4 linked regions of the Homo sapiens genome follow. The protein of the gene in region 2 interacts with the protein of the main gene of each other region in a biochemical or structural test. Each region holds a gene or a part of one and is shown on either strand. Other genes may lie near its edges.

What was found.
Region 1: the proteins of DAB2 (region 2) and MYO6 form a complex in vitro, tested with the Homo sapiens proteins (7 studies listed by BioGRID).
Region 3: the proteins of DAB2 (region 2) and CSK form a complex in vitro, tested with the Homo sapiens proteins (one study listed by BioGRID).
Region 4: the proteins of DAB2 (region 2) and FCHO2 form a complex in vitro, tested with the Homo sapiens proteins (2 studies listed by BioGRID).

Annotation. Positions count from the first base shown.
Region 1 is NC_000006.12:75,878,239-75,885,238, reverse strand, and holds part of MYO6 (unconventional myosin-VI), read right to left. Parts: intron 5,420-7,000; coding exon 5,289-5,419; intron 5,197-5,288; coding exon 5,119-5,196; intron 3,551-5,118; coding exon 3,421-3,550; intron 1-3,420. UniProt on the Homo sapiens protein: Myosins are actin-based motor molecules with ATPase activity. Unconventional myosins serve in intracellular movements. Myosin 6 is a reverse-direction motor protein that moves towards the minus-end of actin filaments.
Region 2 is NC_000005.10:39,414,177-39,422,594, reverse strand, and holds part of DAB2 (disabled homolog 2), read left to right. Parts: intron 1-8,418. UniProt on the Homo sapiens protein: Adapter protein that functions as a clathrin-associated sorting protein (CLASP) required for clathrin-mediated endocytosis of selected cargo proteins.
Region 3 is NC_000015.10:74,784,632-74,793,049, reverse strand, and holds part of CSK (tyrosine-protein kinase CSK), read right to left. Parts: intron 4,507-8,418; exon of another isoform or gene 4,473-4,506; intron 4,379-4,472; exon of another isoform or gene 4,293-4,378; intron 2,234-4,292; exon of another isoform or gene 2,104-2,233; intron 5-2,103; exon of another isoform or gene 1-4. UniProt on the Homo sapiens protein: Non-receptor tyrosine-protein kinase that plays an important role in the regulation of cell growth, differentiation, migration and immune response.
Region 4 is NC_000005.10:73,077,353-73,085,770, reverse strand, and holds part of FCHO2 (F-BAR domain only protein 2), read right to left. Parts: coding exon 8,278-8,418; intron 7,592-8,277; coding exon 7,459-7,591; intron 3,989-7,458; coding exon 3,789-3,988; intron 3,011-3,788; coding exon 2,946-3,010; intron 1-2,945. UniProt on the Homo sapiens protein: Functions in an early step of clathrin-mediated endocytosis. Has both a membrane binding/bending activity and the ability to recruit proteins essential to the formation of functional clathrin-coated pits.

The sequences.
Region 1 (7,000 bases), on a different chromosome or scaffold from region 2:
CTATAATTTCTTATTCTTCTTAAAAATAAAAAGATGTTGAAAGATGTAATTTTGCCTTTGCAAAAATTACAACCAAGGAAATTATGTAAAAGAGATCTGACCTAACCAACTCCATCTTGCTTCTAACCTCTAAGCTGTCCTTGTTCATTCCTGGGTGTAGGCCGAACTAATCTTGGGAAAGAACTTAGTTTATTAAAGTTTAACTTTGAAACAAACATGATAATAACCCTTTCCCAAAATAAACCCCCTTCTTGCCTGGGGAACCAGTCAGCCTTTGTAGGACTAACAAATTAGCTCCAAGATTAGAAATTACGGTTTAGGAGCCACACAGCCTCCAGCTGCATGAATCTGAACCTCCTCAAATTGCTCCCAGGTATAACATCACAGTTGTAACACCTAAAATCAGTGCTCCAGATATTTTGCAGACCTTCCAATGCACCAGCTGATGCCACCTAGATAGGTAATCCGGCCCAGCCAGTTCTGTGCTCCCACACAGGAACAGAAGCAAGCAAGAAAAACTCAATTTTGACCCCCTATGATTTCATCTCCAACCCAAGCCCCTACCTACCAAATTATCCTTAAAAATTCAGATCTCCGAGTTTTCAGAGAGACTGATTTGAGTAATCATAAAACTCCAGTGTCCCGTACAGCCGACTCTACATTAATTACTGTCTCTCTACTGCAATTCCTATCTTGATAAATCAGCTCTGTCTGGGTAGTGGGCAAGGAGAACCCACTGGGCAGTTACAATATCATGTATCTGGTTAGGCTTACATTTTAAATGCATTATTTCCTTAGTATGCTACACTGCTACCTCCCAAACTGTCTTAGGCAACATTTGTTCTATGAAATGTGAATAGGTATGTCCTGAAAAAAGGATTTACCTGTCAAATGAGTTTATGAAAAGCTGTACACTATACTTCTGTATGGAGGTTCACAATGAACATACTGAGTGAAGCCTCTGAGAATCCTACAGCAAAGAAATCTACTTAACTTCAGTTACTCACAATTTCCTAGGATGATCTGACCTTGAACTTTTTTTTCAGAGTTTCCTATTAACATTCTGCAAAGATCCCTGCCCGGTTACTGACTTCGGTACCACTGTAGAACACAGTCCACAAATGAATGGTGTAACAGATGAGTTTACTATAATGTGTTTCCTATCATAATGCAATGTGTAAAGCTGAACGTATTAAACTACAGTAATAAAGATGTTTCTGTATTTTATTTGGAAAATGATGGGGAAAAGATTCTGCTATCTTTTTTCTTTTTATATTAATAGTTCTCTTTTTATCTATATTCACAATTGTCTAACAAAATACCTCAAAAATAATCTTTGTTAGCATGATTCTTTTTCATTAGGCCAAAAGAATTTTCCTTTTCTACTGATAAGGAAAAATTCGCTGGATCCTTTTCATGTACCTAGCACTATTTCAGGTACTCTGATGAGTATAAGGGGCAACTGTAAATGTAATCAAGTTACTGATTCCTACACAGCTCCCAACAATTAAAGGTTTGCCACAGATCCTTAGGTAACCCCAAAATGTTCTGTCCCTCACTTTTGTCTTGGGCCAGCTATGTAGCTGCTATGACCTGGCCAAACCACACATAAAAGCAGCTTAGCCCAGTATGTCAAAGGGGTTTGAATTCCTAATCCCAAAAGCCATAATCCCAAATGTTGAAATCCCAAAAGATCAAAATTCCTAGATTAAAATCCCTAACATCAAAAATCCTAAAAATCCCAATCAGAGGAATCACAGAAGAATTCCAAAAAGAGCAATCTCATGAAGAAAATGAATATGAACATATTCTCCAAGAACCATGTCCTAAAAGAAAAAAAGCACCTATTATTCGTGGTACAAGACTTCAAAATATAGTTAATGACTGAGAAAGACAGCCAGCTCTATGGACTATCTCCATGCAACTGCCTATAATCTGTCCCTGTGATACACTTTTTTTTATGTCAAACTTCCTTTTTAGTTTTGGGTGTTTTTTTTTTCTTTGTTTTTATTTTCACTATCTTAAATTGTTAGCATTTTTTAATTATGTAGAAATTTTTGGAGAGTTCTAATTTACTGTATTCATTTTTTGCAAATTTAACTCCATGAAAATGCATTACCACAACATTTACTTTCTGGGTAAACATTGTGTATGTATATAAAAACACTGAAACTTAATCAATGAACAGATGTCCTTTATCATACATCTGCACTTGTAAAAGATAAAATTTCTCAAGATTTCAGTTCTCTGGGCAACTACAAATGCAGTGGTGACTCACTATGGTTTTTGACTGATCTCATCAAAAGACAGCTTGTTCATCATCACAGTATTTCAGATGACTGCAGTAACAAAGCTGGGTGCACAATTACCAACCACAATAATATGTGTTTATGCATTTCACCTTTCGCCCTATTCTTTATGAATACGGTTTGTCTGCTCCTGTTATACCCATGCAACTATTGTTAGTATATGTGTTTATAGTTTCAATAAACATATATGTTTATTGCCTATATATATGTTATTGCCTATTTTATTGTGAAAAGTGGCCTATGAAGAGTTCTGTCATGTTTTTATACGTTTCTCAAATCCCCTTTTTAAAATGTAAATAAATATCTTTTTTTATTATTTTTACAGAATCCTAGTTTTGGGACTTTCATCTTTTAAGATTTCAACATTTGGGATTATGGTGTTCAAGACAGTGTCTTTCAGGATTATGACAGACTTCCGTTCAAAAAACAGGATTTAAGAGGGGATGGTGGGGGAAGAGACTGAAACAAAAAACTGACACACCATTTTACATGATCTTGAAAGACATCAAATAATTTAGACTTCACCTTTTATGAAAGGAAAGTTATAAAAGGCTTCTAGTTTAGAGAGATATCTCTAAGAAACCAGGAAAACCAGTCTGGGAGCTAATGGAATTATTATGCAAAAGGTGGAAAAGGACTTCACTAAGGCACTGGCAAGAAAAAGAAAGGAATGTACAGTATTTGGAGAAGGAATCAACAGGATCTGGTGACTGACAATATTTCAGGGATAAGAAAGGAAAATCAATTACAATTAGAATTTTCGGGGTATGTGTATTGTAGATGCCATGCAGGCAGAAAGAAAAGTTCTGGTTTAAGTCTGAGAGATTAGGGGATGGTGAGGGGTGCGGGGACGAGAGATCAAGATAGTGAATTCTGTTTTGTTAGGACACTATGAAACTGACACTCTTATAACACATTTGAATAAAGAAAATAAATATCATACACTCAAAAAATAAAAAAAGAAAGAACATCTACAAATAGGAACCTGGGACCCAGTGTGAACAAGTCTCAGTCTCTGTTGCTCAGCATCACCTCTGAGACAGCTTTACAACACTCCACAAACCATCTTGAAACAATGAAAGATCCTATAGGTGTAAAGGAAAACACCTACATTTGATGACTGAGAGTGAGCACCACTGAACTTTCTTCCAGCGACTGCATGTGAGCCAGTGATTGACTCTTTTAACCAACTCTGCTAAGTGGTCAGGGTCAGACTTCATGATCTGATCAAATTCTGCAAACTAGGAAGTGAAATAATTTAGTATCAGTATTAAAATATAAATGCATTTGAACACATAAAGACATGATGTAAACAGAATTCAAATCCAAAATCTAACTGTCTGAAAATGGTCACATGTCAATTACATAGGCCTTGGCAGAGAATACAACAAACACAAACACACTTGGCCACGTTTTGCTTCCTTTCTTTCTTCAGGAGCTTTTTTGGAGGTAAGGAGGTTACTTAATGCTAGGTAGCATATTCAATAACAAAAGTGGGGGGGGGGGATGACTTTTAAATTACAGATGGCTAGCGAGAAGACTTTATTAAGAAAAGAATGAAAAAGGACTACTGTATCTCTGAATTGGCTCACCCACATTCTCAGATATCCTTATGGAGCTTTTGATAAGTGCATATTAGCTATATAATACCAGGTACCGCCAAAATTATTCTGTCTCTCCTAACTCCCATTACCCACCCCCAACCTTTTTTGCAGTGGCGCAATCTTGGTTCACTGCAGCCTCAACTTCCCAGGCTCAGGCAATCCTCCCCACCTCAGCCACCCAAGTAGCTGAGATTACAGGCACGCACCACCACACCCGGCTAATTTTTGTATTTTTTTGTAGAGATGAGGTTTTGCCATGTTGCCCAAGCTGGTCTCAAACTCCTGGAACCAAGCAATCCCACTGCTTCAGCCTCCCAAAGTGCTGGGATTATAGGCGTGAGCCACAGCGCCCAACCCCCATTTCCATTTTAAACAGAGATGAGAAATTTTTGCTACTAAGTGACAGACAACACAAATAAAACAGCTAGTAGGTTCTTAACTAATAAAATACATTATTTCCACTATATACCACAAAATTCCATAATGATTTCAATCCTTTACCAAATAACCCACTATAATATTAAGAATGTCAAAAACCCATCAACCAATATAACGGCTTCTTATAGTCAAAATTAAATTAAAGGTAACATAACGAGAGAAAAGATATTTAAATCTTTGTCTTAAGCTTTCAATAAATATTTCTAATTTTTCAGGAGTTTAAACAAGAAAAAGTGCTTTCTCTATGAGACTATTAGTTCTCAAATAATTATTAAAGCTCTAAGACAAGATTGTCCACGCTGTAGTCCATGGGCCACATGTGGCCCAGGACAGCTTTGAATGAGGCCCAACACAAACTCATAAACTTTCTTAAAACATTATGAGATTTTTATTGCAATTGTTTTGTTTATTTAGCTCATCAGCTATCATTAGTGTTGGTGTATTTTATGTGTGGCCCAGGACAACTGTTCTTCTTCCAATGTGGCTCAGGGAAGCCAAAAGACTGGACACCTGTGCTCTAAAATAAATGGGGAGTTTAGAATAAATATGTATGAGTAAAGCTAAACAAATTATGAACATTATATATAATTATCTTCCTCTCAACTTTTTTTTCTTTTCTGAGAAATGGTATGGAAAATAGCAATTCATGTTGTTAGTGACCATATAATTCAAGAATAATACAAATTATTAAATACTTTAAGATATTCACTAACCCCAACTATTTGTTTTCATGATGTTACAGTTTAAAGTAAAAAATGTATATTTACCTTGCCAGGTCTAAAAAATACTTTGGTTAACCCAAACTTGTAGTCATTTTCATTTAAGCCCAAAGCTTTAAACAAAGCCTGAAAAATAAAAGTTAAAAAGTTAAATGTCAATTATTAATAGAAAAGACAAGTTCATAGCTAAGAAATTTCAATTTGGGTGGCATTTATACCTTACAAAATAGTCTTGGATCCAATCTTGCAAGTTTATCTGGCATATACTTTTTGTACATGTTGTAGAGTTCATGAAATGAAGCTCGTGATGGGTAACCACCCTGCATCAAGTCCAAAACAGACACCATCCCTAGATTCACGAACAAGCACAAAGCACTGTCAATCACTGTTCGGAAGTCCAAAATAATTTGTGAATGATCATTTTTGTAAGATACTGTTTAGAAACGGGCAATTTATGAGAATTATCAGCAACTAAATATTATATAGGAAAATATTTATGCTCATTATGTCCCAACTTATCCACCACCTAAAACTACTATAGTCAAATTTCCTGTAAACCCAATAAGACTCTTTTCTAGAGGCAAATTATTGGTCTCTAGACAGATCAAGTCTAACTGGGTGCAGTGGCTCATGCCTATAATCCCAGTACTTTGGGAGGCCACGCCAGGCAAACTGCTTGAGCCTAGGAGTTCAAGACCAGCCTGGGCAACATGGCAAAACCCCATCTCTACAAAAAAAAAAAAAAAAAATAGAGAAATCAGCCAGGCATGCTAGTGCATGCCTGCAGTCTCAGCTACTCAGGGGGCTGAGACAGGAGGATCATCTGAGCCAAAGGAGGTGGAGGCTGCAGTGAGCCTTGCAGGACACTGTATTCCAGCCTGGGTGACAAAGTGAGACACTGTATCAAAACAAAACAAAACAAAACTAAGGAAAGATCAAGTCTAGTTTGTATCTTTTTTTCTGTTAGAAGACTCTGTGTCACAAACACAGTATATAAGGCAAAGCCCTGCATTAAACCACTTTCAAAGGCCTGAGGTGAATTTTAGAACAAAATTCCTGAAAGAAACTCCAAAAAGTAGATACATTCCCAAGTTATCATCAGTGCATAAGGCAAATGGAAAAGAAAGAAGAGCTCACTGTTTCACTATAAAGACTGCCTTTCACTCACTTCTCAAAGCAACTAGACTACTGGGATGATTAGTCTATTGGATAAATATCTATTTTCAGTATAACTCTAGTAAGTGGTTAATCTGAGTCTTGAGTCAATGTGAGCTTTTCAGGTCAGAAAAAGTGTGAGATAGGCAGGGAAAGGCTGAGCTATAAGTGATGCCAGGACTTTTATTTACAAGACCTAGATTTCAGTCTCTGGGACTATTCAAATCAACGGAGAAAGTAAGATTATTCAATAAATAGTATTATGACAAACGGCAAGCCATTTGGAAAACAAAAACAACACTAGATCCTTGTCTCACTTCTTACACCAAAATAAATTCCTGCTAGCCAAAAATTTAAATTAAAACAAACTCTAAGACTTTTTAAACCAGTGAATTTTTATTTTAAAGTAATCTCACAGGAAAGATGGCCTTTACAGACAGTCAGATTGAATTTTAACCCATTTGACTGGCAAAGGTATAAGATAACAACTAGTACTCAGAGCTGATGACAGTGTAGGAAAACACACAGATGCATTCTTAGCAGAAAAGTAAGCCAGTGTAACAATTTTGGATGGCAATTTGGAAATATCCCTTTGGCTCGGTAAATCTATTCTATGATTTTTCACACTTGTGGGCAAAGATATGCATGTGGACAATGTCCAGATGTCCTCTGGGTCACTGTTGGTAATAGAAAAAAAACCAGAAAAAAACTAAAATCTCAATTGATTATGTTACAACCATATGATGGGATATGACATATTTAAAAGAATAAAGCA
Region 2 (8,418 bases):
GTGACATAGGCTCTTATGCTGCTTCATTTCTAACTCTACCCTCATATGTCCATAAACCTAAGTTTGCTACCACTGATATTTCATCTGGATAATTTTGAAGGCTCTGCGTGTTTCTCTTCCTCATTCTTTTGACCTGAGGATTTAATTATTGCTCTTCTTAAAGACAAAGCCAAGATGCTGAAATGCTTGGGAAAGCTGCTGAGAGTGAGCCCTCCTGGGGTTTGAAGTTGTCCTAATGCTCATCAGAACATACCTCCCCAGCTGGAAAGATTCGAAAGCTTACTGGCCAGGAAGGTTTAGGTAACTAACCAAACACATAAGGTTTTTTACCCTTTAGACAGAACCAGAATGGGAACCAGATTGGCAATATGAAACACCTGAGTAACAGGATGTGGTATTTTAAAATTCTCCCTGGCACTGCTATGTAATTCCAAAGTTGAAGCTGTGCCGCTGAATTGCACAAAGGTTGGCCAAAATCATATTTAGGTGAAACAGATTTTTGTTTTGTTTTGTTTTGTTTTGTTTGAGACAGAGTCTCCCTCTGTTGCCCATGCTGGAGTACACTGGCATGAACTTGACCCACTGCAGCCTCTGCCTCCTGGGTTCAAGAGATTCTGTGACCTCAGTCTCCTGATTAGTTGGGATTAGAGGTACCCGCCACCATACCTGGATAATATTTTTTTTTTTTTTTTGTAGTAGTAGTAGAGACGGGGTTTCACCATGTTGGCCAGGCTGGTCTCGAACTCCTGACCTCAAGTGATCCACCCACCTCGGCCTCCCAAAGTGCTGGAATTACAGGCATGAGCCCACCACACCCGGCCAGATGAATCAGATTTAACACCAGATATGTGTCTTTAAAGGAGACCCAACTCATAATATCAGCATATCCTGACTGGATTAACTGGTGGAAATCAGAAGGAAAGCAGACTCCTCAGTCTTTACTTAAAGACAGAAAACAAGCAAATTCCTGGTTAGGGGAACAAATGATGACTGGTACGGACACAGAGGGCTAACATTCAACACTGGCTGCCTCCAACAGGGCACAATTGGATAGTAGTTGAGAACTACCTTCTGAAGTACCATTTCCTGGGTTCAAATCTTAGCTACAGGGTTGCAGGTTACATGGCCTTGGGCACATTCCATAACCTCTCTGTACTTCAGCTTGCTTATCTGGGGAGAATAATAGTACCTACCCCAGGATTGCTGGGAAGACAGCTAATCTAATATACTTGGAATACTTTTTCCCATCTGATTTTGAAGGTTTTGTTTGTTTGTTATTACTCCCCCCTGAACAACTGAATTAAGTGTCTTTGTGAAAACTGAAAGCAAATGGAAAATTTCTTCATGAAAATTGAATACCCTTCACCTACTTGAAAAAGGTTAATTATTCAAGCACTTGATTTTAATAAAGCCAGTGCGTTTGCTTGTGCTCATGCTAGAACAGACAGGGAGTTACTCTCTGTTTTCGTCCTGGAAGCCTGCACTTTGGTTTGGTCAGGCTGACCTCGCTGGTCTCAATTAAGTCCTCCCCACACCCTCTCAGACTCCTGACAGAGAAGGAGCAATCCTTCCCCCTGAAGTCAGCATTGTCACAGAAGGAAGTGGGAAGGGAGGGACCACCCGGATTAAACTGAATGACTAGGCTAGAAATAAAAATTCTTCCGAGTGTGTGCAGGCCCCATACTATCCTTGCCCACATAGCTGGGCAGGTTGCCATGGTTACTCCCCTTCCCGCATCCTTCTACCCTGGAAGGAAGCCTGCCTCTCTAGGGGAAGTAGAATCTGAACAAATTGCTTCCTGGTCTAAAAATGGAAGTTACTAAGTGAAGTAGAATCTCCTCTCTACTTATATCACCCCCTCCAAACTTATTTTAATCCCAATACTTAATTTTCTAACCTTCCTAGTTCTTGCATCATCTAGATAGCAAAACATGAAAGCTTATGAAATTTCTGGAACCTAAAAGTTACTACCTCAATATAGAAGCAGCCTGGCAAGTTTTCCCTACTACATTTGTACTAGCTAGCTAGGGGCAAGTGATTTTTAACTAAGTCAACTGGTAAAAATTCTAAGTGAATGGGGCAGGCTGAGTGAGTGTTACGTTGAAGGTAAACAATGTATGAGGGCTGTCACTTAGATTTTCAGGTAACCATAGAGTAAAGGGAGCAGGTAAATAGGAAGTAACAATCCTAGAATGCTGGATTTGAAGCACCTTTCAACCTAGAAGAAATCTGGATGAGGGAAATATGGTTTAATGTTGTCTCTTGGTAAAAAACTACCCTATTGCTACCTAGCAATATGATGCAAAATGTTAGTCCCAAAAAGACTTTGATCTTTATATGAAAGATGAGCTGCCATACACAAGTTTGCATTTGACAAATTAATTCAGTCTTTCAAAATTGGACATTTAGCTTGATGTGTATTTCACAGCTTGAGGGAACTCATCTAAGACAATAGTTCTCAGAGCTGATTCCCAAACCAGCAGCATCAACATCAGCTGGGGACCTGTCAGAACTGCAAACTCTGGAAGTAGGGCCCATCCAGCTGTATCTAAACTAGCTCTCCACCACGTGATCCAAGAGTAACTTTCATAATTCAGTGGTTTTAGGATTCACTTCTTCAGTGGAAATCATAACAAAGTATTTGAATTCCTTCAGTCATGGAGATAATAAAGCAAAAGCCTTTAAACACAGTGCAGTTTAACTGAATCTTAGGATGCAGAAAGATTAAAAAGCATGGGATTTGGATATTTTTCCCATATACCAAGTATGACTTTCTTGATCCTAGGAAATCCAATATACTTTTGGTTTGATATTATCACCTCACTTCCAAATCTTTTCCCCTCTGCTGGGGTTTTTAAAGAGTATAATTAATCTTCATTTATTAGGAGACTGTCCCACTTACTTCTTTTAAAAAGGATTCCAGTAAACTAGATCATTACCCTTGAACCAGATGGTTTTCTCTAACCTATAAAACTTTTTATTTTGTTTTTATGCCATGTCTAGAAGTGCAGATGAAGTCCTCTCCATAAATGAGTCTACTTCATTTAGTTTTTGTAAAGTTTAATGGCTAACGAAGCACTGCTCCTTTCTCCCATTCGACTTTCACTTTAAGTAACTTGAAATAGAAAAGATATCTCTATTTATTGGCTCCAATATGATGAGTATCTTGCCCAAGGTGTTATCATTAAGTGGTAGAGCCAGGATTCAATTATGAATCTTTATGATTTGCACCTTGGCGTTTATCTGAATACTTAGCAATTACCTACTATGTGAAGTCTGATGCTAGGTTAGCAATGGAAAATCTCCCAGTGAGCAGAAATCAAAACAAAAGTCTTCCTCATGTGTGGCAAAGGACATAGGATAGAGAGTTAAACAGACTTACATGTGAATGGCAGTGCTACCATTTCTTGGGCATGCTATTCAATGTCTCTGGCCCTTAGTTGTCTCACTTACCTTGCAAAAACAGTCCTAAGAATGCCTGATGTCAAACAGAGATCACATCTCAAACTGAAAAATACAAGGGTGTGATGTACAAGTATATAATTGGAACTCTGATTTTGAAAAGCCAACATAGATTCATGGTTAAGAGCTTGGGTTCTAAGCTGCAAATGACTGTGCCCACAGCCTAGCTTTGCCATGTAAGACAAGCTATATAAGGCCTGAGCTTCATTTCTCCATCAGGAAAATGAGTTGCCTCGATTTTAAAATTAAAAACTCTTCAGAACTCCTGCGGCTGCTTCTGAAATTTACCTGTCCTAGAAATGCAATTCTCAATGCAATAACTAAGCTGATATTTTTTAAATGGTCTTGTTCTCATTGTTTTTGAGTATCAGGCAAGCTAAATTCTAGAGATGCACACATTCAGGCTGAAAATTAGAAGACTGTCTTTCCTATATATCTTTAAACTATTAAATGTGAATAATCAAGGAGGAGAATGTGGCAATGCTTCATAAATCAGTAGAGGCACACAAATACTAACTTTAAGGTACCACTTAAACCTCATCTGAGCAGGGCAGTTAAGTCCTCTTAAGGTCTATAGTTAATCCATACCCAAAGAACTGGAAAGTGAATAACTTCATCCCTAATTGTGTCCATATTGAACACAGCTGCCCTCTCGGTTCTAAATATTGCATCCAAATGATCTCACTTATTTTTTTATATTTTAAGTGTCCTATTAGGGGGCCAAGACCTGGTCTAGTTTTCTGTAATATGTAATACAGATGCTAACGTGCTTTTTGTTACCATTTAGTGCAACAGAAATAAACCAAATGTGTTTGAACATATGTCAGAGGGCTGACATAATCATATGAAGAATGCTATACCAGTTTGGCTTTGGGACGAAATGTGAATCTACTAGGGCAACATACAACTGCCCTCTGAGTCAGAAGATCAGAAGTTGCTGTGGCTACACATAGTAGGTGCTCAAATATCCATCCTTTAAAGGGAAGGGTCAGCTGTGCTTTAGTTATATCAGCATTAGGTTTTGTTGTTGTTGTTACTTGATTTTGTTTTGTGTTGCTCCCTGCCCCCTTTACCTCTAAAATTAAGCGACTTAAATGCAATTCATTTTTGAAGTAGAAAAAACAAGTATGTAGCTGATAGAACAGGCTTTTCCATCAATTGTTGGTTGCTAGTAAGGAGGGTCAATATTGATTTCTGCCTGGGCTAAGGTTCAACTATAGCTGAGGCTTTTCAGAGAGCATACATGTACTAGAATTGAAATGATAGACAGTTATATTTAATGTCCACGCTGTCTTCTAAAGGATAGCTTGATGCAGAAATGCTTGCTTAACTGCCTGAAAACCTGTTCTTTGTGATTTCTGATTTGTCTAACTGGTCTGAAGTTCCCAATGACTAAAAGTTGATAGTAATTGAAAGTTGGGTGCAAATATTTACCTTAGAGGGACACATATATGACAAGAGCTGCCTATAAGATAGTTAGAGAAAATAGTAACTACTCAACTAACATATGATTTTATTGTAGTTAAGTGGTACAGAGTGTTGTGTGGATCCAGAGGGAGAAAAAGGCCATTGGTGTTAATGGATTTGGCTTTTAAAGGAACAATGGAAGTCAAATAAGCAAAGGTAAGAAGAGAAAATGCATTTTAGGCAGCAGCGCATATGCAAATCATGCAGTTGGATGAACTTAGGATATGCCTAAAGAACTCTGACTGGTCAGTTTGGCCAAGAAACAGTACAGGTGGCATAGGGCTGAGAAGTGTCTGAGTTTGAAAAGTAGGGATGAATTATACTGAGCCATGGATGTCAGGATAAGAATTTTGATTTTTTTTTTTTATTTTTATACTTTAGATTCTGGGGTACATGTGGAGAACATGCAGTTTTGTTACATAGGTATACATGTGCCATGGTGGTTTGCTGCATCCATCAACCCATCACCTACATTAGGTATTTCTCCTAATGCTATCCCTCCCCTTACCCCCCAACCAGGCGCCGGTGTGTGATGTTCCCCTCCCTGTGTTGATGTGTTCTCATTATTCAACTCCCACTTACAAATGAGAATATGCGGTGTTTGCCAAGCAGATCCGTCATTAAAGCAGGAAAACCAAATGCTGATTGGGATAACTTAACCTGGCTCTATTGGCAGAATGTGTTTGAGTGGAGATTGCTTAGTAGTTGAAGAAAAGCCTATATTTCTTCAAAAATCATCAAAGTAGAGAAAAGGGTTGCTTAACCTAAGATTAAGGTGCAAAAAGAAATATTTATTACCCCTAATGTTTTAAGCGCACTGCTCATTAACAGACTGTGTCGAGCCTAGAAAAGTAGGGCAAATAATTTTCGGATCCCAAAAGCTTTATTGAATTGAGAGAAGAGCTCTACATGAATCAGAGGGCAATGATAGGTCATGGCAAATGTGAGGAAATGGCTGGTAAGAGGCCGGTAAAGACTTCCCTGAGACCACACATCTTGAGTGGCCTTGGAATGAAGGTTTTCACGAAATTCAAGAAGGTGAAGGCAGTACATATTACAGGCTAGCAGACCACATAAGAAGGTCTGGTGTGTCTATGTGTCTGTTTAGGGGAAACAGAAGACAACGGCCTCTTCAGAGAGCAGGTGGCCATGTATATGTATAGTCCACAGCCTGATTAGAAGGGCTTTGAATCTCAGCTTGAATGTGAATGGAGGAATTGAACACCGATACCTGATTAATTCAAAATCAGGAAAGCTAGGAGGCCAGTAAACACTCCTACAAAAATTTAGCCATAAAGGGAGATCAGTTACAACCAGAGTCTCTTACACCTTAGATTCTCACTGAAGCCCTTTGGAGAAAATGGAAGAAAGAGCTCATCCCATAAAGAGTTGTTTGTTTGTTTGTTTTTCACTTCAAGTGTTTTAAATATATTAAGGAGTACTTATGCTATGTGTGTAGAAAAGATCAACAAACACCATAATATAAGTCCGCTAATCATGAGGGACATGTATGATACAACGTGGTATAGCTTTTTAGGGAGGAGGAACTCAGGGTGGCGGTGAGGCAAGGTTGAGGAAAAATGCTGGAACTAAGTAAAAAAAAAAATATGATGGGGAGGGAGGAGAGGTGTGAAAATAAAGGGTAATTATGAAAAGTAGACTTTCAGAGGTTTGACTCATTCATTAAACATGAACAGTTTAGGATAAAATCTTAGCTTCATTCTAAGCTGCAGACAGTACTGTTGTGGATCTTTTAGGTATATCTGCATACGAAGTACATTCTGTAATGCTGTTCCCACTTAGTGTATAGTGATGCAAATGTTCAGTTTTCTGCACAAGAACTCTTTCATAGAAACAGTGGGCACAACCATGTTCTGTGTTAGGATCTGGACTCTTACACTTCATGCGGCCAACATTTGTGGAGGGCTCACTACTTGTATTGATCATGAAGTCCATTTCCTTGAAGACTGACATTGACCAAGTGCTGCCTGGTAGCCCCTTGATAATGCTCTTGTGACTTGGTAGTGCTCTTTAAATAACTAAAGCAAGCTGTAGGGACCCTTGGTTACATTTTCATAAGATTGTTTCACTGAAATCTGAGGTTCAATGTTTGGCCTGATCTGAAAGTGACACGTTGTATTCTTAGAAAATCTGGTAATTAAAAGTGCCACAGAACATGTCTGGTTCTAGAATACAGAAGTTCCCTGAATTGCTTGTACTTCTTAAGTGAATGCCAGACTGAATGCCAAATGAGCATAGTGTTTCCTTCTGGTGTTTATGAAGATAGTGTTGATTCAGAACTTTGGATCTTATGATAACTCTGAAGGAAACATCACTGAAATTCTTCAATACCCTCAGGTATAACAGAATTGCTTCCTTCTGTTACTGCCATACAGATGGTCCTTCAGATTGTAACGTGGTTATAGGAGACTCATAAATATTAAATGTAAATATCCCCTCAATTTGTGTCATAATTTAAAAATTGTTGAAGAGGGTTATTAACCCTTCAGACAACATTTGCATCTTTCCATAATTGATATCAATACAGCAATTTATATATAATTCCTTGATGTAATACTACTTTTTCTTCCTTTTATGAAGTATTATTAACAGCAATGAAGCTTTCTACCCTAATCAGAAACAATTCCTCCAAAACACATAGCATCAGTTATAACTGTGACCTGCTTGTTCTTTCTCCCCTACCTAACCTCTAAGCCCCTTTAGAGTAGAGACCATGTCTATTTTGTCACTCTATACATAGGATAATGCAGTGCTTGGCAAATAGTAGGTGTTTAATAAACAATAACCAGATGGCCAGGTGAGTGAGTAACTCAAGCCACTTTCATTTACAACATCAATTGCAATTTATTATAGAGTGAGCAAAATGGAAAACTTTAGCTTGCCTTATCATCTGTTGGTATAAGTAAAACAATTCTGACCACCCCCCCCCCTTTTTTTAACTTTAAGGTTATTTATAATGAGCAATATCCATATGTTCTTCTAGTTTATATCTGCTCAGGGCCTGAGGAAGGCAGACAAGCTGTTACTGAAATTCTCCAGATGGTGTGGTCTTTCCAAGTTGCTAGTTTAACTTCTACCAATGGAGTATTCATCATTGCTCATATATCTGTCTGACCTGATGGATGTAATCACCTGGCTAATAAGAATTGTGGTGAATAGATTTCAGCCTGATACTTTATCCACAAACAACTTCTTATTCTCCTTCTGTTTCTCCTTTTAAAAGTGTCCACCAAATTGTTTATAAAATTACTAATAAAATTTGAGAAAATAGGTAAGACCTTTGGCTTAGCACTGGATAATTAAGGCTATTGCTTTGACTTAACACAATTTCTGCCCAAATCAAAGAATCTTGTTTTGTTTTGTTTCTTATTTCCCTGTGCAGCTGTATTGTGAATTAAGATATCCATTAGGCTCTTTAAAATGCTAAAATTAGGTCACAAACTCATTACTGTCTGCACAGACCCCAGC
Region 3 (8,418 bases), on a different chromosome or scaffold from region 2:
ACCCCTGAATGAATGAATAAATGAACAAACAAAAGGGGGAATCCAGCCTGGCTACATCACACTGAGGTCCCATAACCAATGGGACTATAGTTAACCCCAAAGGGACTATAGTTAACCCCAAAGCGATAGCAGCTGTCACCCCACCCCCACAGAGCTAGGGGACAAGGGGCTTGGGATGTGGCAGGACCAGTGCTTCACGCTGACTTCCTGCCCCAAACCCGGCTCCCAGTAGCCCTTGTGCTGGGGTCCCGGGAACAGGCTGGCATTGTGCCCAAGCACTGACGTCAGTGGCCGCAGACAAGATGGCTCAGTGGCTTCCCAGCTAGTGCCTAGGCCGGGGTCCCCTCCTTAAAACATCTCCAGAAGGTGAGACCCTCCCACTGCAGGTCAGAGGCTGACAGCCAGAGTGGCTGGGAGGAGCTACTGCAAACTTAGGCCTCTACAACCCAGCGGGGGTCAGGCACAGAGAGGGGGTCCTTCCTGGGGTTATTTAAACTTAAGAGTCGGGCTACTCTATGGAACAGTGCAGGAACATCGTCCTGGGTGTCAGATGCTCTGAGTCCTGTACCCAGCTCTGCCATCAACTTGCTGTGTGACCTTGGGAAAGTCACTTGACCTTTCTGGGACTTGTTGGCTTCTGGTACCTTAGCCAGACCTGTTTCCCATCTGCTGTTGCCAGGACACCTGTGCCCTGTCTCCCTCCCCGCCTTGCCATTCCCTTCACACTCTCTCCTCCTCCTTTACCGAGGGACTTCCACTCAACCTTGGGGGTGCAGCTGAGCAACTGCTTCTGGAGTACCCATGCCTTAAAAAAACACAGCAGGACAGTCCCTGCAGTGCTGTCTGTAGTAGCAGGAGATGATGGGGAGACAGCCTTTATGTCCATCAGTTGGGGGCTGGGTGGATAAATTACAAGATGTCCCTGAAAGGGGACAGCATAGCTCTAGCTGTGATGGGGCCAGGGGAGATCTCTAGATGCCGATACTGAACACTCCCCATGATAGAGTATGGAAAATGGCAAAACACCAGCTCAAGTCATTGAAGAAAAAGTTGCCAGGGGAGCAGAACAGACACAGCTTCCAAGTCCCATCCCACAGGCTAATTGGAAACAGGAAGGAGCACCTGCACTACAGGGAGACGTGCGGACAACCCCGGAACCAAGTGATCCAGTGAAGCATCACCAGCAAGGTGACGCATGGACACTAAGTGCCTCCTGGAGGAGGACTCTGCATTGCCCGGGGGGGCGTTCCTGCCAGAGCTGTTCCACCTGACTCCAACCAGGGAGAAGCAATCAGACAAATCCAGAACAACTGGCCCGGACTCTTCATGTCAATGTCATAAAAGAGCAAAACAAAAAAAGGGCTGGAGAATGTTCTAGATTGAACAGGACACTAGAGAAACATGACAAGATTCAATAAATGATCTTGAATTGAATTCTATATCAAGGGGTGGTCGGGGGGACAGCTATAAAAATCACTTGGGGAGAGGGGAAATGGACATAGTAGATAATATGGAATTAATGTCAATTTTCTTAAGTGTGATCATGACATTGTGATTATATAAGAGATACACGCTAAAGTTCTTAGGGTGAAAGATGCAATGCCTACAACTAACACTCAAATCAGCAAAAAATACATACACACATATGTCTATGTAGATAAAAGAAGAGATAGAGTAAATGTGGCAAAATGTTAAGAACTGGCAAATCTGCATGAAGGATATATGAATATTCATTATACTATTACTTCAACTTTTTGGTAGGTTTCAAATACTCAAAATAAAAGGCTGTGAAAAAAAAAGCCAGGTGCAGGTTCTCTATGGAATACTACAAGTTGTGTTTTTAAAGAGGTATTAATGCAACACCTCCCTAAACTCAAATATGCCTCGATTATCTTTGGAAAGACAGAGGAAACTGGTAACAGAGGTTGCCTCTAGGATGAGAAGGGAAAGTGAGATCAAGTTCAAGAGAAACTTACTTTTTACTGTTCATTTGCTATTTTGTCCTTTTGGGCTTTTAAAAAAATTATTATTATTTTTTTAAAGCCACATGCATCTATTACCTTCCCCCTTAAAACTGGAAATAAGAAACTTTTTGTAAATCACCTCTCTCTGGAGAATTCCTTGGGTCCCCAGCTGTGTTGGCTGCCGAGGCCTCCAAGGCCTCTCACACATCCCCGTGCTCCAGTGAGAACCTCACTGGTTGTGGCCTGTGGTTTAGGGTGGACTGGGAGCTCTGCAGGGGGAAAGTGAGGGTCTGACTCACGTCTGCATGGGCTGGGCCCAAAGCGGCTGCTCAGTAAATGAGTGCTGAATGAATGAATGAATGAACGAATGAAAAAAAGGGGACGCCAGGCTGGCTGTACCACACCGAGGTCTCATAACCAATAGGACTATAGTTAACCCCAAAGGGACAGCAGCTGTCACCCCATTCCCGCAGGGCTAGGGGACAAGGGGCTTGGGATGTGGCAGGACCAGTGCTTCACTCTGACTTCCTGCCCTAAACCCGGCTCCCAGCAGCCCTTGTGCTGGGGTCCCGGGAACAGGCTGGCATTGTGCCCAAGCGCTGAGGTCAGTGGCTGCAGCCTCAGGCAGCCTTTCTTGTGAGCCCAGGCTGACAAGGAGTGGGGAGAAAGAACTGGGAGCCCAGAAACTCCCAGGCTGCCCTTTTCCTACCCTGGAAGCAGCTGTAGACCCCCAAGGCCAGGCACGTGCTGAGGGCCAGGGGAGGTCAAGGGGCTCCCTTGCCCTTCCCCCTTGCCAAAACTCTGCTGCCTAATGGGGCGTGGGAGCCTTCAGTAACTGTTTACGCCCAGCTAAAAATACCCACTGAAAAGGGAAGTGCACAAAAGACCTGGGGGAACTCAGGGCCCTGGCCCCCGGAGATTCTGGTGCTGCCACAGGACCTAGCTGGATGCTCTGGGGGATGGGGACAGCCACTGGAGGCAAAACAGGCAACAGCAAGGTCCACCTTGCCTTCTCATTCTTTGAGCCAGTGTTTTAGAAGCCTTCCTGTGTGCCCAGAGCCATGCTTGGTAGGCCAGGATATCCGGGTGGAGAAGGAAAGGACTCAAGAGGTCCTGCCTTTGGGGACCCAAGGTCACCACTCACACACCTCTCCTCTGTGCACAAGCCAGGGCTGGATGCTGGGAACCACCACAAAATGCAGACCCGGCTCCTGTCCTCCTGGTTACTGGATGGTCAGCCATGGCCTGGTATGTTCAGTGCCTCAATAGATTGTGAGACAGGGGCCACCCGGGAAGGCTTCCAGGAAGATGGGTGAGGGGAGCAGGAGCTAGAAGGATTTTAGGGGAAAGTGACTGAGAGAGGGGCGCCTTGAAGTAAACCAGGATTAAGACTGCAAACTGTGGTACAGAGCGAGTTAATGAAGACTGAAGAAGGTTCAGGATGGGGGCCCAGGGAACCTCCGAGCAGGGCCTACAGGTCATAGTACAGATACAGGCAGAATTAAGTTTCAGATTTGGGCCCGCCCCTCCAAAGGGCAGTGCACCTGAGGAGGGCGGGGCACCCACCAGCAGTTGGGCAAGTTTGGCAGCAATAAAATCAGCTCCACCTCTGGTTCTGCAGAGGACACCAGGCTGAGGCACTGTGACATTCCCCACCACACATCAGGCAAGGAAGGGTGCCCGAGGGCTTCCACTGACCCCCGCAGCCTGCGCTGGTGGTCCCTCAGCACCCCCACTGCACAGGTGTCTCAGGGTGAGCAGCAGCAGAATTGGGCGCCAGGGTCTTGGAGATGCCTACACCTCCCGGGGCGGTTACGAAGGAACAGAAGAATGCCTGCTCTGGCTCCAGGGCACGCTGCCCTACCCCCATCCCGGGGCTCCCGTCAGCACCCTGACCTAAGGAGAAGGGCGGATTTAATGGATAAATACCAAATTATAGCAACACACTGGCTTTTTTTCCCCTGCCCCCAATGGTTCAGTGGGACCGGAAATCCCGTCTAGTGGTTTGGGAGAGGTGGGGGCTGGGGTTAGAGCAGGCTAATGGGGAGCCTACTCCCCAGGCACCGCTGCGGCTTGAGGCTGCCATTCCTGGCCCAGAAAGGTTTCTAATTACCGCTCAGGAGCCTAATTACCTATGTGCGCTGGGCAATGGGGACTCTGGGCCTCCCCAGGGCCCTAACCCAGGCCTCTGCTCCCCCACCCCCTTAGCACAGGATGTGGTCTTTGCATCTTCATTTGCCTGCATTTGCATATAGCCTCTCAGCACTAGCCTTCAATGGACCCTTCAAAGTCATGTTCTTGTCCCTCACCCGGAAGTCTCCTGGCCACATTCTAGGTGGGGAGACTGACGGCTGGAGGCCCATAAGCTGTCTAAAACTTCGGCCCCCAGATTTCTGGTCTCCCCACTTCAGAACCAGGATCTGCAGAACACACAGCTCAGAAGGTAAAGCTGTGGGGATCAACACAAAGGACAGACTTGCTACTACTTAAGGGAGATGGGGGTGTTACCAGTACACTCCTCCAGCAGGATGGGCTGCAGAATGAGAACACGGGAATTACAGCTGACTGACCCAACCGGGTTTGGGGCACTGCATTAGTTACTTAATCCTTCAAACACCCCATAGGGCAAGGACTGGTGATCTCTGACAGAGGAGGAACTAGCTGTGTGGGTACTTGAGCTCAGAGTTGTCTGAACCTTGGTTAGGGGACCTTTCTTCCCACCTTTCCTTGTGCAGGACAGACGACACCCTGAAAATGGACAGGTGGGGGGCACCGAGGGGAGGTCTGCCCAGAGCTTGGCTGTTCTGCTCTGGGAAGCAGAGGTACTTCTGTGCCCACTTCTTGCTTGTCTGCATACCCCAGCCTCTCAGAGAGGCCAAGAGCCTGTCGAGGGACACACAGAAAAGAGCCAGCAGCCCTAGAGAGGGCAGAAGCTTCAAACAAGGACCTCTCCTCCTACCACGCTTCTTCTTCAAACACTTCTCAACTTTCACAGGACCTTCCCCTCCAGGAGGCCCTCCAGGCTGCCCCAGCCCACGCAGAGCCCCAGCTTCAGAGCTCCTACCAGCTCTGCCAGGAAGTGAGAACCACAGGCCTCCCCTCACTGACTCCTCGTCTCCTCTACCCGCCAGCAGAGGCGCTCTCAGGGTTTGCTCTTCATCCTTCCCTCCTGTCTCCCTGCAGCACGGACAGCACAAGCTGCAGATAGATAGATGCGCGAGTCTGCATGAGGACCAGGTGTCAGGCTGGGCTGAGAAGCAGCAGCCAGGGTCCAAGGGGGGCAGATGATGCCCAGGTTTTCGCCTGCCCACGAGGCTTACAACCATGCCATGATCAGGACAGCCAGGGGGGCACCAAGCAGCCTCTCTTCTACTTGTTCCTTCGACTCTGGGCCCAGACCACAGAAGGAGGGGTGGAGGGAAGCTGCGGTTGGAGGGTGTGTGCACAGCTAGTGTGTGATGAGAAGCTGACTTCATCTTAGCACCTCAAAACCAGGAAGAGAAACTGAGCAGGCAGAAAGGGCAGGCTGGGCTGCACAGGGCCCTCCAGTCCCTGGGGGCCTGCTGAGGGGAGCTCTCAAATAGTCGCTTGACAAACCACTTCTCCTTTCTGGGCCTCAGTTTCCCCATGGGAAAAATGGGATTTTTTTTCTAATGGGTCCTGCCAGTCTGCCCTGAGTGGTGCCGTCTACACTTAATGGGCCACATCATGGCAGATAAAAGAGCACCCCCCCAACTGGTGGAGTACTTCTGATCCCGAGGAGCAGGGGCTCAGCCACCCAAAGCCAGCCTCTCCCTGCTCACTTCTCCCCTCAGCCATGCAGGGAGCACCAGCTCTTCCTTCACCAGCTCTTTATTTTTAGGTCTGAATTTGACTTTAATCATTACTTAGCGGATTCTATTTCCAGCCCTTGGATGAAGGGACCCAGAGGAGAGGGGGAAGGGAGGCAGTGCTCCCTGCCGGGCGTTGGGGGTGGCCTGCTCCTCCACCCATCCTGTCCCCAACCAAGGGCGGGGGAAACTGAGAAACACCCAAAGGGCTCTCATCTGAGCCAGGCCAGGCCAGCATCTTGGGGCGGACCCCACCCTGTGACCTCATCCCATCCCAAGCTGTGGGACAGGAGGGCAGTTGTCATGCCCACTTCCCTTACACTAAGACCAGGGAGGAGGAGATACTCCACAGGCCAAAGTTTGGCAGCTGGAGTCTGAAGTCGTGTGCCCAAGGGACCTCTGCACTGAATGGGCCACCTGGGGGAGGACCCCTTCCTTAGGTTAGTCCTGGGCCACCCTAGGGTCATCTGGGGCTACAGTCTCTTAGGCCCAGGGTTGCCAGGAGGAGACTGGTGTCCTGCTACTGCCCACGGGGTGGCTGTAGGAGGGCACTCCCAGTTACCCTGGTCTCCACAAAAGTAGAACAAGAGGAAGCAGGTGTGTCACAGTGATACACACTCAGGTTAGACCTGGGGAACACCTGCTGAGGAGGGGGAGGCTAACATGAGTTTCCCGATGTGTCCAACTCCCTCCTGGGAAGCTCTGGGAGGCTCCAGAATCCCCCTACCCTTAATCTCCCAGCTTCTTTCCCTTCCTTGGCTACTGGAACAGGGTGCGAAGATGAGGCTGGCATGGCTGTTCTTGGGCTGGGGCTCAGGATGCCTGGGTTCCTTGTCTAAGTCTCAGGCTAAGCAGGCCTCTATTTCCTCTGGGAAAATGCCAAGCTGGGCTGACCTAGCCAGAGCTGGGAGGCAGGAGGCAGCCAGGCTCTTACAGAAGAGGCGCAGTGGCTCACGCCTATAATCCCAGCACTTCAGGAGGCCGAGGTGGGTGGATCACCTGAGGTCAGGAGTTTGAGACCAGCCTGACCAACACGGAGAAACCCCATCGCTACTAAAAATACAAAATTAGCCAGGCGTGATGGCACATGCCTCTAATCCCAACTTGGAAGGCTGAGGCAGGAGAATCGCTTAAACCGGGAGCCGGAGGTTGTGGTGAGCCAAGATCGCGCCATTGCACTCCAGACTGGGCAACAAGAGCAAAACTCCATCTCACACACACACACACACACACACACACACAAAAAAAAAAAAGAGAGAGAGAGAGAGAGAAGAGGCCTTGTCTATTTAGCTCTGATGCTGGGAGACCGGAAGGGGAATGGGTGGAGTCAGGTCCCGGACCCTAACCAGCAGCCCATCTTCCCAGGGCCAGCCCCATGTCCTAGGCCAGCCAATCATATGGTAATGGGGAGAAGGGAAGGCAGGCAAGGGCACTGGCCATAGTATTCTAGAACCTCAGGGCCAGGGGGTTTCACAGGGGCTCCTCAGGCGGAGACCACCTCTTTGCCAGGTGAGTGGTCAGTCAACATTGGCCCGTGGCTCAGGCACCTTCCCCACAGGTTGAGGCAGCCAGCAGTGGGCACTCCTTCAACAATGCCAATCCTACTCACAGAGGGAGTGAAGAAAGGGCTGTGCCAGGCACTTTAGAGTCCCTTGGTTAGTTAGTTGACACTGTCCTTACACCTTCCTCTGAAGTAGGTGTTACCATCCTGTTATTTATATCAACGAGGCTCAGCAGGTCAGTGACCTGTCTAAGGTCCCTCTACCCTGGGCCTAAGTGGCATGTCTGGGCCTGGAACCCACATTCAGTTGGGTGCCAAGTTGCTTGTGCCCTCCAACACCCTGGCTGCTTTTGGGACTCATAGTAACGACAACCACAACAGCAACAGAGGGGAAAAATGCACACGCTCCAGTGTATGGGTGATGGCGCTGCAGCAGGCCAGCCTAGAATGTTCTGTAGCTTTTTAGAAGCAACGTTACTTAGACCGCGTAGCACCATGAGAAAATGCCCACAGACGCAGTATTAAATGAAAAAAGGTGTCACGGCACACACACTCCAGTGACAACGACAATGAAGGAAAAGGATGGGGAAAAGACTGGCAGTGAACTCCAAAATGCTAACACAGTCACTGCCTGCTGAAGAAATAGTGGGTGATTTTTGTTTCATTTTCTAAATTTCCTGTAGCGCTGTTTTGTTATTTTCTAAATCAAGAAAATGAGTACATTCATGGTTTCCCTATAATGAGCTCAGATTCACTTCCCTGGGACCCACCTGCTCCCTAGCTCTGGCCCACGTGTCTGGGACAATTTCTGCCATGGGATGCCTTTCTCATTTGGGACAGTCCCTCAGACATATGAGAATCTGTCCCTACTTTCTCTTTCCCAGACTCAGTCAACATCCCTGGCTCTTTGAAGATGACCTGTCAAGGTTTTAAAATCCTTCAAAAGATGGAGCCCAGAACCGCACCCAGGTGGGTCTGCCCCCTTTGGGGGGCAGCCATGTCACACTGTGGATCCTGGGTCTCAACCCCTACCTATACTTGTTTGGAGGAAGCTGCATTCTGTCCCCGAAATTTCCAACCCTTGCCGAGGGCCACTCTGTGTGGCTCAGCCTTTTGGGGTCTG
Region 4 (8,418 bases), about 34 Mb from region 2:
CAGAGTCTCCCTCTAAGGCCCAAGCTGGAATACAGTGGTGCAATCTTGGCTCACTGAAACCTCTGCCTCCCAGGTTCAAGCTAGACTCGTGCCTCAGCCTCCTGAGTAACTGGGACTACAGGCACGTGCCACCACACTTGGTTAATTTTTGTATTTTTAGTAGAGGCAGGGTTTTGCCACATTGTCTAGGCTGGTCTCCAACTCCTGGCCTCAAGTGATCCACCTGCCTCAGCCTCCCAAAGTGCTGGGATTGCAGGAATGAGCCACCATGCCTGGCCTTGGATATTCTTTTCAAAGGCTTGACTAACCACATCAAAAACCACATTTATAAGATTTTTCCATTTCCTCACAGAAACACCTGATACCTGAATAGCAGAGGGAAACTTAAAATCTGGTTAGAAAATTTGTATCTCATTTTTTTATTTTTTGAGACGGAGTCTCTGCGCCAGGCTGGAGGGCAGTGGTGCGATGTTGGCTCACTGCAACCTCCACCTCCCGTGTTCAAACAATTCTCCTGCCTCAGCCTCCCGAGTAGCTGACACTACAGGCACGTGCCACTACATCCAGCTAATTTTTGTATTTTTAGTAGAGACAGGGTTTCACCATGTTGGCCAGGATGGTCTCGATCTCTTGACCTCACGATCTACCTGCCTTGGCCTCCCAAAGTGCTGGGATTACAGGCATGAGCCACTGCACCCAGCCTGTGTCTTATTTTTGAGAGAACAAATTTCTTTCTTGTTAATTATTTACAATAGTATAGTTTCATTATATTGGGGAAAAAGATCCTTTTGTCCTTCTAAACTGGTTATAAGCCCTTAATGCAAACAGGATTGCTGGTTTACTTCAATTTAAACTAGGAATTTCAGCTTGGCTCACAAAAAGCTATATATTAATAGCTAGGGTTAAAGTCAATGCAGTTGGCCAGCTGAAAGTGGGCAACCTATAAGTACCAAACAGCAAAAAAGAAACTGAAGATTTGCTTGGTTATTTCACCCAATGTATGGCTCTCCAGTAAAAGTCTTATTCTGCATGGCAGGTGTAAATGAATAAACAACACAGACATATTTACGGTCCTTTCTACAGAAATATCTATGAGAAAAGCTACTGATATGTTTTATATTATGCTCAAAATATTCAAAAAGAAAAAGCTCAGCAACATTTGAAAAGCCAAAAAACCTATCAAATAGAGGAGTTATTGGAGACTAGGCTGAGCATGGTGGCTCATGCCTGTAATCCCAGCACTTTGGGAGGCTGAGGCTGGCAGATCAACTGAGGTCAGGAGTTCAAGACCAGCCTGGCCAACATGGCGAAACCCTGTCTCTACTAAAAATACAAAAATTAGCTGGATGTGGTGGTAGGTGCCTGTAATCCCAGCTACTCGGGAGGCTGAGGCAGGAGAATTGCTTGAACCTGGGAGGCAGAGGTTGCAGTGAGCCAAGATCATGCCGCTGCACTCCAGAGTGGGCAACAGAGCAAGGCTCTGTCTCAAAAAAACAAAACAAAACAAAACAAAACCAAACCCTAAAAAAACAAGCAGAAAAGTTATTGTAGACTAAAATTATGCATTCAAAAGAAGGCAGAAGAATTCTCTTTTGATTAAGAGAAAATAAGACTATGTTAAAGACTTGGCTGTCCCAAGAATTACATCCTTATTGTAAGTTGAGTTATAGAAGTGATCAGCTAGGACAGCCTTTTCCTTGGCATTATGAACACAAACAGATGTACTTAGTGAGAGAAGCATAACTTGCTTCTCCTTAAAATAATCATCAGAAAATTGAATGCTGCTGATAGTTAGCTTTAATAGGGGGAAATGGACAGGAAAAAGGTTCTTTTAGAGAACTGCAGAAGGCAAGGGGGCTTTTTTTTTTTTTTTTTTTTGAGACAGAGTCTCACTCTGTCACCCAGGCTGGAGAGCAGGGGCACCATCTCAGCTCACTGCAACCTCCGCCTCCTTGGGTTCAAGTGATTCTCATGCTTAAGTCCCCTGAATAGCTGGAATTACAGGCGTGCACCATGACGCCCAGCTAATTTTTGTATTTTTAAAACAGATGGGGTTTCACCATGTTGGCCAGGCTGGTCTTGAACTCCTGACTTCAAGTGATCCACCCACCTCGGCCTACCAAAGTGCTGGGATTACAAGCGTGAGCCACTGTGCCGGGACGGCAAGGGGCTTTTTAAAGCCTGGAAGCGTCTACATGATTTCTGGGAGGTCAGGAGAATCCCGTTAACAGAATGAACTAAACTGTGTTAAATCAGTTTCAATTAGTTATCAGGTTACCTACATGGAACATAGAGTTCTATTTCTTTAAATTTACTAGGTATAGTTTCTTAATGTTAGCATGTAAATATAAGAAGTATTTACATAATATTTATAAAGTTATGGCAAAATAAATTTTTTCTTATAGAGAACACATACTCAATCTAGATGAACAAATGTGTTCTGAATCTCAGCTGGTCCATTCTAAAGGTATTAACTTCCACCTAGTGGTCATTTCTAGAACTGAGGGCATGAAATTCCAGGAGGAAACTTTACATAAACTTTCCCTTAAAAAAGGTATTGCAGTGCTTCCAGGAACGGTGCACCCATGGCCAGGCGCAGTGGCTCACGCCTGTAATCCCAGCACTTTGGGAGGCCGAGGTGGGCAGATCACGAGGTCAGGAGATCGAGACCATCCTGGGTAACATAGTGAAACCCTGTTTCTACTAAAAAAAAAAACAAACAAACAAAAATTAGTTGGGTGTGGTGGCACGTGCCTGTAATCCCAGCTACTCAGGAGTCTGAGGCAGGAGAATCGCTTGAACCCAGCAGGCGGAGGTTGCAGTGAGCTGAGATTGTGTTACTGCACTCCAGCCTGGCAACAAAGCTAGACTCTGTTTTAAAAAAAAAAAAAAAATCAATTTTCAGTGACATCATTTTATAAATAAAAAAGGACACACACACTTACCTCCATTTTCTGATTTTTCTGAAATACTAGACAATTTCCAAAAGGCTTTCATTTGTTCTGCATTCCTGCAATAAGAACAGATATCTTCAGGTTTTGTGTCTAGTATAGTACCTGATACATGAATGGGACCTCAATAAATAAGTGTATTTTAAATATTTTCACTACAACAAATATATTGCTAAGTTTAAGTAGTATTAACTGGTGAAAATGTGTTTATGATATAGTATAAACATAATGCTGTATCTTTTTCAATTAATGGAAGTTTACCAAATTATGTAATTCTTCTCATTCCTATTGGTCAGAGAAAGTAAAATGGAATGTGTATAGGGATCAGTACCTTCATTAGTCAAGGAAGACACATGTTATTAAATGATGAAGTAACTATAAAGAGCGGTTAGAGTCTATACTAATACTAACAGAGGGGACAGGAGAAGTTGCTAAGAGATGGCAGTAACTAATACTATTAAACACTAATTAGATAGGTGTTCCTGTTCCTATAGACTTGCCAGATGCTATATTTAATCCATAAAATATTTGTATTTTTTAAATGAAAAAAAAAAAAAAAGAAGTTTAGAGAGGTCAAGCACTCTGCCTAATGGTAAAGTTAGTATGGAATCATTGAAGTCTGGGTGGTACTTAGAGCAAAACTAGTTTTGTTTATTTTTGATTAAGGTTACTATGGTTTGACTAGTAAAATGAACTGCATCTTTTACAGCGTGGTTTCTATGGAAAAAGGCACAAAAATTTTTCAAACTTCTAAGAAAACTTACAGAACTTGGGTTCTAGAAGTTGGGGATTGCAACAAAAATTTAGTGGGAATTCAGAAACGTATGTTTAATTTACCATATTGCAGGGGGAAGGGACTGCATGTTCGTTACTCCTCCATCCACTGGTACCACCACCTGTATGTTGGAAAGCACACTAGGTGCCACCATAGCTTCTGGATTGTATTTATAATCCACTCTAAGATCTGTGGTGCTAGCACTACATTTCCAGTATGTTGCAAGATTCAGAGGAGTGGACTGAATACCATTTGATGATACCTTTAAAGAGAAAAGAACAAACAATTGTTTTTGGCCTGAAAAGTTAAGAAGTCATGTTAATGACATGGACACTTGAACATGTAAGTCCACAAAATCAAAAATATCTAATGAGGGGACTATCTGTTGGCAGAGTGAAGCAGACCTATCTCAAAGGAGTAAGGATCATTCTCAATGTGGGGACCTACTACTACTTACATCAAAATTGCTGTGGTGCTTGTTTATAACACACATTCCCTTAGCTCCAACTGCAGAAAATCTGATTCAACAGCTTAGGGACAGGGCCCAGAAATCAGCATTTTATGAAGGAATTCTTAATTATGCGTGTAAAGTTTGCGAATCTTCCAACATTCAACACAGAATTCAAAGATTCTTCATACATTATAAGAATTCAGATTTAGAACACGAGAAAAAAGGTCACCACGTAGTACCACAAGTTGGAATTAGAATGCTTCCAACTTCAAATGTTTAATCACATGACTCACAGTAAATGTTATAATTCCTTCAAATTCTTAAGCTCCTTGTCCAATGGCTCCTTTTTAAGGAGACCTACTCTGACTGCTCTGTTTAAATTTACACTGAAAACTGTATTTTCAATCTTCCTTACCTTAGTCTATACTTTTTCTTTTTTCCATACCACTCATTTTCTAACATAGAATATTATGATTATTATTTTGAGGCAGGGTCTCACTCTGTTGCCCAGGCTGGAGTGTAGTGGCATGCTCATGGCTCACTGCAGCCTCAACCTCCTGGGCTCGAGCAATCCTCCCTCCTCAGCCTCTGTACTAGCTAGGACTACAGGCTTGTGCCATCACACCCAGAGAATTTTACATTTTTTGTAGAGATGGGGTTTCTTTTTATTGCCCAGACTGGTCTTGAACTCCTGGGCTCAAGCAATCTTCTCGCCTCAGCCTCTCAAAGTACTGGGATTATAGACCAGAGCAACAAAGTCCAGCCCATAGAATATTACTGATCTTTACTGTCTCCCTGTCCTACTCCCAGCAATTACATGCACTGAATAATACACATCTGTTGAATAAATGAACACCTGTAAGAAACTTTAAGTCAATTTAAGTGGCAGCACTTTTTTGTTCTTTAAGTATTTTTCTAGAAACAAGCCATTTTAATAAAATTACCCTATTAAAAACTAAAAAAATAGAGAAATATAAAGTAGGAAATTTATCCCTTGGAATCCTGGCATATATCCTTCCAGACTCTTCAGGCATATGCAAACATAGATCCATGTCATTCTTTTTAATGGCTATAGTAATTAATTTCCTCCTCTGCTGATGTGTATGTACTTAGGTGCTTTCTAAACAATGCTACAGCGAATATCCTTTATGCCTTATCTTCATCCAACTGTGTATTTCTGATGATTTCTGGAAGTGGAATTGTTGAATTAAAGGTTACATCTTTCAACAATCTAACAGAATTGCCTTCTAAGAGGTTTTACTTGCATCCTATTAACAAGTGATCATAACCTTCTTAATACTGGATAAAGCGAACTTTCATTTTTGTAAATCTGATGGGCTAAAACTGACACCTCATTGTTATCTTAGTATTGACTGCTCTCATTACTACTGACATGAAGCATCTTTCCATAGGTTATTTGTCTATTGAGTTATTCACATGTTGCTTACAAATTTACAAGGGCTCTTTGGGGTAAGCCCTGTGGTTCATCTTATGTGTCGTAAATACTTTTCCCACAGATTAAATACTGATTGTGTTTAAAGGTTTAACAAAATATTTTATAAACACACACATTTATTTATCAAATATCTCATTCTCTTCTTACATGGCTTCTGGGTTTCATATCATACTTAGGTCTTCTGTACTTCAAGATTAAAATATGTAATAAATATGTATTACATATATACACACACAGAGAAATACATATACAGTTGTTCCTCAGCATACTTGGGAGGGTGGGTTCCAGGACCCCTGTGTATATACTAATCTGTGCATACTCAAGAAACATAGTTGGCCCTGTGGGACCCACATATAGAAAAAGTTGGCCCTCTGTTTATACATGAGTTTTGCATCCACAATCATTGCATTTTCAATTGGTGTTTGGTTAAAAAGAATCCTCGTATAAGTGGACCTGCATAGTTTATAGATCCTTTTTGTTTAAGGGTCAACTGTATCTTCACCCATGCCTTTATTTTAGTACCTTTATGGTATGGTATCTTTTATTATTATTATTAAACCTTTGATACACATGGATTTTACTTTGGCTAAAAGTCTAACAGGGATTCACCTTAATTTTTTTCTCAAGTGTCTAGCTTGCTATCCTCAACATCATTTTTTGAAAAATTCATCACGTCCACATTGCCTTGAAATGCTACTATGTCGTATAAACAATTTTCCATTTATTCTTAGATCTATTTCTGGATACTCTAATCTATTCCTTCATCTGGCCATCTACTGCTGCGTTAGTTCCAAACTATTTTAAATACTGTCTATACTAAGCTTTCCCATTAAAGCTAAAACATTACTCCACTTTACTGTTTAAAACATTTCTTGCCAGGAGCGGTGGTTTGTGCCTTTAGTCCCAGTCACTCGGGAGGCTAAGGCTGGAAGACTGCTTGAGCCCAGGAGTTTGAGGCTGCAGTGAAATGTGATCATGCTACTCTACTCCATTCTGAGCAAGAGAATGGGACTCCATCTCTTTAAAATAAAAAATTCTTGACTTATTCTTGTAAGCTTTATTCTTCTAGAGAAACGTGAAAATGATTGTCAAGCCTCCAAACACAAAGACGTAACTCTACTGGGTTTCTGATCAGTATTATATTAGATGTATAAGTTAACTGAGAAACAGCTAAACTTCTACAGCATGAATCTTTCCATATTCAAGTCACTAGAGATTGTGTTGTGTTTCTTCCTAATTGTTCTTTGTGAATATTTTTCTCCACTAGTTTTTGTAATTGGTTTTGAAAGTTATTAATTTTGGTATTAATTACTAAACTGACCACCTATATTAAATGTCCTTATGTCAAATAGTTCTTCAATTGGTTCTCGTGAGAGGAATATATCACCTGTAAGCAATAATAATTTTGATTCCTCTTTCCCAGTATTTATTAATGCTTATTTTGTTCTCTTACCTGACTGTACTGGCTAACACATCCAGAAAACTCTTATATACTAACAGGATCTACTAATGGGCATCTTTGCCATTCCTAACTTTAATTGATTACTTTGGGAGTTTCATTGTTAAGACTGATACTGCTAGTCTTTTCAGCTTAAGGACAAATTTATGCATTTAAATTTACTCAGTATTTTAATCATGAATAAATGGTGAATTTTACCAAACTGGTCAAAATCTCCACTGGCTTATAAACAGATTTTCTAATTTCAAAACATCCTTGAATTTCTGGGAAAAAACTCACTTGGCTATGACATACTTATTCATTTATATGCTAGATTCCATTTTTTAATATTTTAATTTAGAATTTTTGCAATGTCGTGACACTCACCTGATACTTTAATACATCTACATTATAATAAGAAGCAGCTGGATTTTGCTCTGACAGCTTCTTGAGGTAGACTGTAACAGCTTGCATGTTCATCCAAAAATCTTTTGTGTTGGAATCACATTGTGATGGATCACTACATATATAAAAAATATATTTGTTATTTTATTGACTTATCTTTATGTTTTGCCTCTGTGTAGTAATTTGGTGACACAGGAAAAACTAGTAGAAATAAACCAAGAGGTGGGATGAAGGAAAATTAGATCAGGGGATGAAGAATGGAACACAGGAGAAGCTTGCTTGAAAGATAAGATGGAGAGAGAGAAAAGAATCTTAAAATAACTATTAGCACCACTGAAAACAAAATAAAAAGACAGCAGAAAGGTGTTTAGTAAGAATAATTTTGGTATGGTTTTCAAATTGAATATTATTATTTCAAAGAAGAAGGGGGAAAACATTTTTTTTTGAGACAGGGTCTAGCTCTGTCACCAAGGCTGGAGTGCAGTGACACGATCTTGGCTCACTGCAACCTCTGCCTCCTAGGCTCAAGCGATTCTCCCACCTCAGCCTCCTGAGTAGCTGGGACTACAGGAACGCACCATCATGCCCAGCTAATTTTTGTTCTTGTTTTTTGTTTTTTGTTTTTTTGGTAGAGATGGGGTTTTGCCACATTGCTCAGGCTGGTTTTGAACAACTGGGCTCAAGCAATCCACCTGCCTCAGCCTCCCAAACTGCTGGGATTACAGGCGTGAGCCACTGTGCACAGCAGGAAAGAAAATCTTAAAACGAAATTTCAACCTTCAAAACAAAAAGTACACAAACCTGAACACAAGCTGTGCATTTGGAAGAATCTGCTCTAGTCTGCTGATATTTTTCACCCTGAAGCACAACACAGCTGGAGTTGGATTGCTGGTGAAGACTTTAATAATTCCACTTGGAAATGACATTGTCATATCACCAGTG